Regions from separate parts of the Homo sapiens genome. Here all the other regions are linked to region 3. Evidence: fine-mapped expression QTL. A gene starts in region 3. Each other region holds a variant in brackets. All regions are shown on one strand. Distances are between the middles of the regions.

Evidence for each region.
Region 1: its variant is fine-mapped to the expression of PJA1 in adrenal gland (GTEx, PIP 0.97).
Region 2: its variant is fine-mapped to the expression of PJA1 in thyroid (GTEx, PIP above 0.99).

What each region holds. Positions count from the first base shown.
Region 1 is chrX:69,024,179-69,026,937 of GRCh38, forward strand. No RefSeq gene overlaps it. Among named protein-coding and RNA genes, the nearest start is that of PJA1, 140 kb to the right of the region's middle. The variant C/T (reference allele first, on the strand shown) is at 1,185.
Region 2 is chrX:69,215,647-69,218,405 of GRCh38, forward strand. No RefSeq gene overlaps it. Among named protein-coding and RNA genes, the nearest start is that of LINC00269, 37 kb to the left of the region's middle. RefSeq lists an enhancer at 1,568-2,067. The variant G/C (reference allele first, on the strand shown) is at 1,394.
Region 3 is chrX:69,164,126-69,166,884 of GRCh38, forward strand. It overlaps PJA1 (praja ring finger ubiquitin ligase 1), which reads right to left and starts at 1,328. Exons shown (of 2, transcript NM_001032396.4): 1 at 1,247-1,328.

The sequences.
Region 1 (2,759 bases), 140 kb before region 3:
ATCTTATCCATCCCCCAGGCTCCAGACTAGAAAATTTTTCTTTCAACCTGGTTAGTCAACCCTTTCCTGCCATGCTTATGCATTCTGGTCTCAAAGAAGGCACCGTGAGTCCCTGTGCTCCAGTGGTATTTGTTTTGGATGCTGGGAGCCATGTATGCCGGCTTCTAAGAGCGGAATGGGGATCCTCCGGGGAAGGTGAGAATGGAGTCACGTGGCAGAGCCAGCAGGGCAGGGGGCACCCGGGGGCCCAGTGCCTCTCTCCTGCTAAGGATTGACTGCCTCTGCCTTTCTGGCCGCCTGCCTGCATCTCAGTTTCTAAGCAGAGCCTGGAGCCTGGCCTAGGGAGCAATGCGAGTCCCAGCCCAAGGCCTTCTGAGAGCAGCAGAGCGGAGCAGCCCCAATCAGCCTTTGGCTGCCTTGCTTCCTGCAGGTGGAAAAATCATCCTATTTATCCCCAAATGGATTTGTCGACTTGAACAACAAACAGACACAGAAACACACATGGAGTCATAGACATATGTGCAAAAATGGATCCAGAGATGCACATACAGTCTTTATGTCTGCCTCTCTCTCTCTGCCTCTGCCTCTCTGTCTCTATGACTTTGTCTCTGTGTCTCTGCCTTTGTCTGTCTCTGTCTCTCTTTCTTTCCCTCTCCCTCTTTCAACTCTTTCTCTCACTCACCCTTTCCCAAGGCCCCTCCTGCCTGCATTACAGCATTTATCAAAGTGGCCTGACCTCATGTTGTAAAAATATACAGCATGGAACAAAATCCACCTTAAACTCTCTTCTAAATATATTAAAATAATAGGAATTCTCATCTGCCTGATTGAATTTGCTGCTTGATATTAGAAGCATGCCAGGCCCTTCCGGGCCCAGTCAGGGGCAGGGAGGGGCTGGGATTCCCTGCCTGACTCCTCTCTCTTGGCCAACAGCTCTGCTCCTTTGGGTGGGCGGGGCCAGAGTGAAGGAGTTGGAGCTGTGTTCTGGCCAAGAGACCTTGGGCGGCCACCTCAGCCAACAGCCAGCAGCTAGCACAATCCACTGAGCACGTGCAGACAAACACTGTGATTTCTCTGGCCCACACAGCACCCCATCTTGGTCTGGAAGCTGGGAGCCCCTGCCCCTGCTCCCATCTGCACCAGTGCTCACAAGCCGTCCTGGAGGGACTCCCGGGTTTCGCTAA[C/T]GGCCACATCTGTGGCCCATGGGACCAGAAGCTTCTTGAAGGCAGGGACCATATGTTGCTCTTTTCTGTATCACCAGGATCTAAAATGTCCTGGTACAAATAAAAGCTTAGGGGAAACATTTGTTGAATAAGCAGATTAATTCATTTATTCATTCAACTTATATTTATTGAATACTTAGTAAGGGCCCAGTGCTGATCTAAGCACTGGGAACACAGCAAAAAAAACAAATAGATGTCAAATCCTGCCTTCATGCAGCTTTTATTCTAATGAATAAATAAACTGGCCCACTCAGCCCACAAGAAAAGATAACCACCACCCTGGGTCATGCTTCCCCTCCAGGTCTCTTGCTCCTTCATGGAGCAAACCATCCAACGTGCAAAATCTTATACTCTGCTTTTCAGAGGTACAGCAGATGCCTCATCATGGCTTGCTCAGGACTTGGATACCAGCCTACTGGCAATTTAGGGCAACACTGTGCAGGCAGAGGAAAGGATGGGGCAGGGGCCTGGCATGAGACTCCCATACTTGCTTAGGATGGGGGCTGGGGAGTAGGTCTGACTAGCGGTGAAGGGGGCTCCCTGGTGGACAAAGTTTGGTGCCAAAGGGCAGGGGCACAGTCAACAGTGGGCCTTGAGGTTCCAAGAGGAAGTAGTCACAGGATATTAATCAGATGGGGCAATGCTGCTGCAGGGAGTCAGCTACAGTTGGATTTAGCGTCTGGAAGAAGAGCAAGTGTCATGTAGAGAAGGGCCCCAGGGTGGAATGCGGAGAAATGAAAGGTTGGTACAAGTAATGTTGTGCTGGTAAATATTTAACAGCTTGCTCACGGGGAGGGGAAAAAAATCTCTGATTTGTAGTGTTGCCAATTGCCATGGTATAAATACTCCCACAGTGGCTGAATTCAAGCTATGAATATGACATCACTGGATACAGCTTTGTAAAGAGATATGCACATGCAGTTCTCATGAGCCAATGTGAGCCTTGGCCTGGGCTGGGGGTCAGAATCAGAAATTTATTTATTGGAGGGGGACTGGCCAGTAGATGGAGGATGAGTGGTGACTGAGGTTGCTTGTGTCATACGGCCTCTGCCTGCACTGGCTTGGAGATCTGTAGGCTGATTTGACACCTGCAGAGGAAGGAGAATACGAGTGGTTTTGTGTGTGTGTGTGTGTGTGTGTGTGTGTGTGTGTGTGTGTTTGTGTAAGTGACTGGGGGTCATGGAGAAATACTGATAATTTTGATCCTTAAAATGATAGCCAGTCGGGTTCAGTGGCTCACACCTGTATTCCCAGAGCTTTGGGAGGCCAAGGCAGGTGAACCATTTAAGCCCAGGAGTTCAAGACCAGCCTAAGCAACATAGCAAGACACTGTCTCTACAAAAAAATAAAAAAATTAGCCAGATGTGGTGGCATATGCCTGTGGTCCCAGCTATGTGGGAAGATAGCTTGAGCTAAGAAGGTGGAGGCTGCAGTGAGCTGTGTTTGCACCACTTCACTCTAGCCTGGGCAACACAGTGAAACGCCATCTCATTAAAAAAAAAAAAAAAAAAGATAACCCCACTTCTATGTAGTGCT
Region 2 (2,759 bases), 52 kb after region 3:
GGGTGAGAGAGCCAGCGCGGGATTATGGGCTCCTCGCTCGGAAATGATTGGTCGTGACAAGCTCACTGCAGGAACAAAGCCATGTGAAATTGACCTCATCACCAGCGATCAGATCAGATTGTTTAGTGTGAGGGGAATGTGAGGGGGTGTTCAGCTAGGCGATGACCTAGTTAGGGCCTTAAAGAGGCAGAGCAGCTGCCCCACTCTGGGGAGACAGAGGCAAGAGGCCTCCCAGGGGAAGCCCCCACTGAGCTGCAGGTAGAGGAAGACCCATTCCCATGCAGGCCTTTCAGCATCTCCAGAGGGTAGCTGAGCACCTGGGCTAGGGTCTAGCCTCAGGGGACTAAGGGACAGTGATAGAGGGGGCCAGGGTAGGAAGCAAGGGCAGAGTTCCTATACTTGTCCAGGGAGATTAATGAGATAGAGCAAAAACTGGGGCAACTCGGAGGGTAGAAGTTGGGGAGATCCTAGGGGACAGGAGTTGAATTTATTTAACAATTATTTGTTTATTTACTACACCTCAGATGCTATTCTGAATATTTTACATATATTAACTCAACCCTCAAAACAACCCAATGAAGTAGATACAATTATGATGCCCATTTTATAGATGGGAAAAACTGAGACTTGCGAATCTATTATGTGGCCCAGCCTGGGCTGTCTGGTTCTGGTGTCTGTGCTATTAACTGCTGTATTCTACTGCATTGCCTCTCTTTGACAGGGTTGACCAAATGTGGCAGGCCAGATAGAAACTAGGAGGAGGTTCCCAATGCCTTTGAGGCCTTTCTTTCCTATCAGGCCCTAGGGGCACCAGGAGGCCCAGAGGCTGGGGCAGGGAAGAGGGGTCCTGTCGGGAACTTCAGGAACAGGTGCCTGTTTTCTCCTTGGATCCTGTTTCCTGACACTTGCTTGAGGAACCAAGAGGGGAGGGAAAGCAAAGGCACATGTGGTCAGCTGGGCAGAGCAGGCTCCTTTCTGCCAAGTGCTGCCTTAGGGAATATGATTTCTGCTGCCTGAGAAGTATAGAGGGATGCCAGAGAGGGGGCAGGACTTCTGGTGGGCACATGGTGTTAACTCTTTCATCTCTGATATGTATGCAAAAAGCTTAGCACAGGGCCTGGCACAGAGAAGTAAGGCACTCACTAAATGTGCAACAAACAGCAAAATCCACTGGGGGTAGGGCCAGAGCAACAGCTGCAGCATGAAGGATCCTGGTTGGCTTCTGGGAATCATTCCAGGGAGACCAGAAATCTCCCCTTGAGGGCTTGAAGCATAGAGAGACCCCTGCCACCCCAAGGAGTTTGGAAGCACCTGAGGCCAGTGCCTGGGTGGAATCTGCTGGGAGTTGCAAGTGTGCCGCTCTGATGGAAGTTGAGGGGTAGATACAGAACTG[G/C]TCTGGCCAGGCTAGGCTGGGCCCCTTCCTAGTTTGGTGCAAGCTGAAGAGCCCAGGCTGGCAGGATCTCAAGACTTCGTGCCTGCTCGCTAGGAAGTATGTGGCTGAAAAGCACTCTTGCTACTCCCGGGCGCTGGGCTGAAGGAGCTGACTCAATGCTCTGTGCCTCTCTTCTTACAGGGCATCCAGTCCTGAATGTGCCCCCAGAGCAGGCCTCTCTGCTCTCTGGCTCTTGGCTGCCCAGTTCCCTGGGCACCTGAGGTCTCCTGTCAAGGGCTTTGGGTCTCAGGCAGGGACGGGCCAGCCTGCCTCCTGCCCTGGCCTTCTTTCCAGCTGCCTGCCTACTGTCCCTATGTCCTCAGGCTGGGCCAGTTTCCATTCCCCCACCTTATCTCAGACTGAGGTGAGGTGGGACATGACCTGGTGGGACATCATTTCTGACCAGTAGCCCTTCCCTGGAATATTTCTGATGCTCCTGCCAACTCCCTCCCCAATTTGGTTTAGGATAGGGATGCCCTCTCCCAGGATGCAGCACAACTACAATGGGTTGGAGGGCCTCTCATTCTCTCCTGAGAGCCCACATTGAGAGAATGCAGGCAGAAAAGGACCTTAATTCTTCGGGGAGACCTCTGAAGGACTGCCAAAGGGCAGAGGGAGCTGGAGTGACCTGGATGATCCCAAGGACCACAATTAAGACCTGTGGGTGGAAGCCACAGAAATAGTGATTTTAGTCCACTTCCAGAAAAGACCTCCTGTCAGTTTGAGCTGTTCTGCAAGGGGATGGCTGAGTCAGGGCCTATCGATACCCCCGTCCCCAGAGGTTTGGAAGTAGAGGCTGGATGGACAACCATGACGGATGCTGTAATAGGGCCTTTGAAAGGAGGGTGGGACTATTCTATCCCCATGTCCTTCTCTGTGTTTTTTGTTGCAATTGCTACAGCCCCATGGGATGTTGTCCTCTGGTCAGCTCCCCTCAACAGAATACCTATGCAAGTTCTTGAAGTTAAAGACAAACAAAAAGGCCAAGAGCAAATTCAAGACATGGCTTTGGGGTGGAGGGAAAGAGAGGAGGAAAGAGACAAGGAGAAAATAAAAGTGTGGGGTGGGGGGCAGCGCAAGAGCAATGACAGAGAAAGGGAGATAGATAAATAGAAAAAGGGCCAGAGACATCAAACCAGAGGCAGGGACAAAGTTGGAGACGGAGAACTGTTTCCTGGACTTCATTCTCCTTTGTCTCCAGCCCAGTGGCATTGAGGTTTCTGAGGAACATAGCTGACCCCTAACCCTATATGTTGCTTCAAAAGTGAAGGAGTGGCCCCCAAGGGCAGCTGTGCCAGTTGCATTGGTCAAGGCCTTGGAACATGCC
Region 3 (2,759 bases):
ACAAATGGAAGCGGGGGTGGGGGGTGCGCAGCACTGGAGAGGGATGTGCTTGAGGTGGATGGAACAGAGGCAGGCAATCAAAGAATGATGCCTGCCTGTGTGGATATGGCAAGCAGGGAGGCAGGTTGTGTCCCCGTAGAAGGATTTATGTGAGTGCGAGTGTGTGCACCTCAGGGACCAGCAAAAGAGAGCTGTGTCTGACACACGTGGCAGACAGAGCAATAGAGGAGAGCATTTGAGAAGGGGGTATGAATGAGCACATGTGGCTACATATGTATGTCACTGGCCAGCGATAGAAGGATGTCCTTATGTGTGTATATGACAGGAAGGAAGAAGGAGGGCAGCCGGAGGGGGTGTGTGAATAGGCATGTGTTCGCGAGAGCACGCAGAGGCCGAGCAGGGAGGGGGCCGGTGCTAGAGGTGTGTATGTGGTAGGCGGATAGAGGAGGGGGAAGGCATGGGAGGGTGTGAGGGTGTGAGGGTGTGTGAGAGGGTGTGTGCTGCGTGTGCCTGCGCATGCGCGGGGGAGGGGAAGCACTGGAACCTTGAGGATGGAGGGGCAAGGAGGGGGCTGCAATGGAAGGCTTCTGTGCGGGGGCGCGTGCTCGCGACACACGGGGGGTGGGGGGTAGGGGGGACGCAATGTCATAAAAAGAGGTGGGAAAAGGCCATCAGCTCAAACGGGAGACCCCAACCGATGTGGCAGGGGAGAGGGAAAATGAAAGAAAAGGGCGTGCGTGGGTCTAGTTTTCCCTGAGAATAATTATTTTTTCCTTCCAATTTTTTCCCTGGGAACAGTATTTTTACCTAAAAATCTTAACCATTTACCATTTGGCAAAACAACAGCAAAATATGGGAAGAAAGGCCACGGAGTGCTCCGCAAAGGGGCCGAGGAGGGAAGAAGGAAGGAGAGGGGAGGAGAGGCAGGGAGAAGTGGGAGAGGGCCGCGACCACCACTGCCCTCCCAATAGCGATGAAAGCCACTCGAGTGGGGACCGCGCCACACCAAAGGGGTTCCGGCAGCGGAAGATGTGGCCCCAGAACAGGCCGATGGAGGACATGGGCCTCACTCTGCAGTCAGGTCCCGCGTCCGCCCCACCCCTTCCCGAGGGGCGAACCTGAAAAGCAGTTCCCAGGAACCCCCCAAAATCCTCGCCCCCGTGCCCGGCCACTCGCCCCGCGCCCGGCCACTCGCGCCACCGCCAGCGCCCGGATGAATCGAGGAAACAATCAGCCTTTCACTCACCAAGTCCAGAAAGCCACACGCTTTTCAGAGAAGCAGAGCTCTCGGATCTCCGACCGCCACGACCGCCAGAGCCGCTGCTCCCGGTCCCGAGCTCCTCCCCCGCCAGACAGCAGCGGGGCGGGCGGCGACTGCGGCGGCGGAAGTGATTGTGAAGTCAGCTGGAGCCCGCCTCCTTGATGTGGCGGGGGCGGCAGCTGCTCTCCACAAATCAGGGTGGGCCCGAAAGCATTATTTCATCTTAAATGATGAAATCGTCAAGGATACAGAAAAGGACAGCGAAAAATGTCACAAACACCCAGCTTTAACTAATGTTAAACATTTAGCTATATTGCCTTCTGGTTTTTTAATAAATAAAATAAAATCTGCAAATTCTTTCTGATTAAGTCCAATGTGAGAGTAATTACGTTACTACATCACATCCTATGTTACGTGTTATGGTTGTACCGAAAGTATTAAAACTGTGAAACCATATTTAGGGTTGCAGTAAGCTTAAATTTTTTTTAACCTGATGGTTAAAGCAAATTGAAGCTGTTTATGTTGAATTTGTTGCTGCTAATCACAAAACCAAGCTTCTCTGTCCAAGAGATCATAGGACACAACACAGGTTCATATTCTGTTATTGCATTGCAGTTAAAAATATTGTAGTTACGCCTTTTGGATTTATACCATTTTACTGAATTCTGAAGTCTTTAAATTGCGCTTTATAATGGAACTCTAGTATTTACAGCCAATGTAAACATTTCCCATGTTCACAACAGTAGCAAAGTTTTGTTCTTACTGGAAACAAAATGCATAATAGAACAAAAATCTTAGGGGTAACAACATAATAGAAATAAAATGTATAACTTTCAAACCATTAAAGTAATAATATGTGGAACAAAGAGAAAAACTCATTCTTAACAAAGGTCAAGAAATGTTGCTGGGGGGGTACAAAAAAAAGGATGCAAAAAGAAAACAAAAATGCAGGAATCCAAATATATCAGCATGCATTATGGGTTAACATCTCCTAATAAAAACCAAACTCTTATTTTGAGCATTTTGTTTTTAAAAGCTAAGTTATATTCTATTTATGTGAGTTTCACCTAAAGCAGAAATAGGAATAAAAAATATATGAGAGTAAAATACTAGCAGAAAAAAGGGAGAGAGGGAATGAGGGAAGGAAAGAAGCAAAAAAAAAAAAAAGGAAGGAAAGGAAGGAGGAAACAAACTCGTAACAATATCAATATCCTAAACATCGAGAACTCAAAGTAAAAAGAACTAAAGAGAACAAAACAGGTTGCTTTATTCACTGAGAAAGATATGACAAGCTGGTGGTGTGTGCCTGTAGTCCCAACTACTTAGGAGGCTGAAGCAGGAGGATTGTGTGAGCCCAGGAGGTTGAGGCTGAAGTGAGTGAAGATCACGCCACTGCACTCCAGCCTGGACAACCAAGCAAGATGCCATCTCAAAATGATGATGATAATAATAACAATAATAGAACTTCATTGGTGAGAAATCTGAAACTATCAAATTT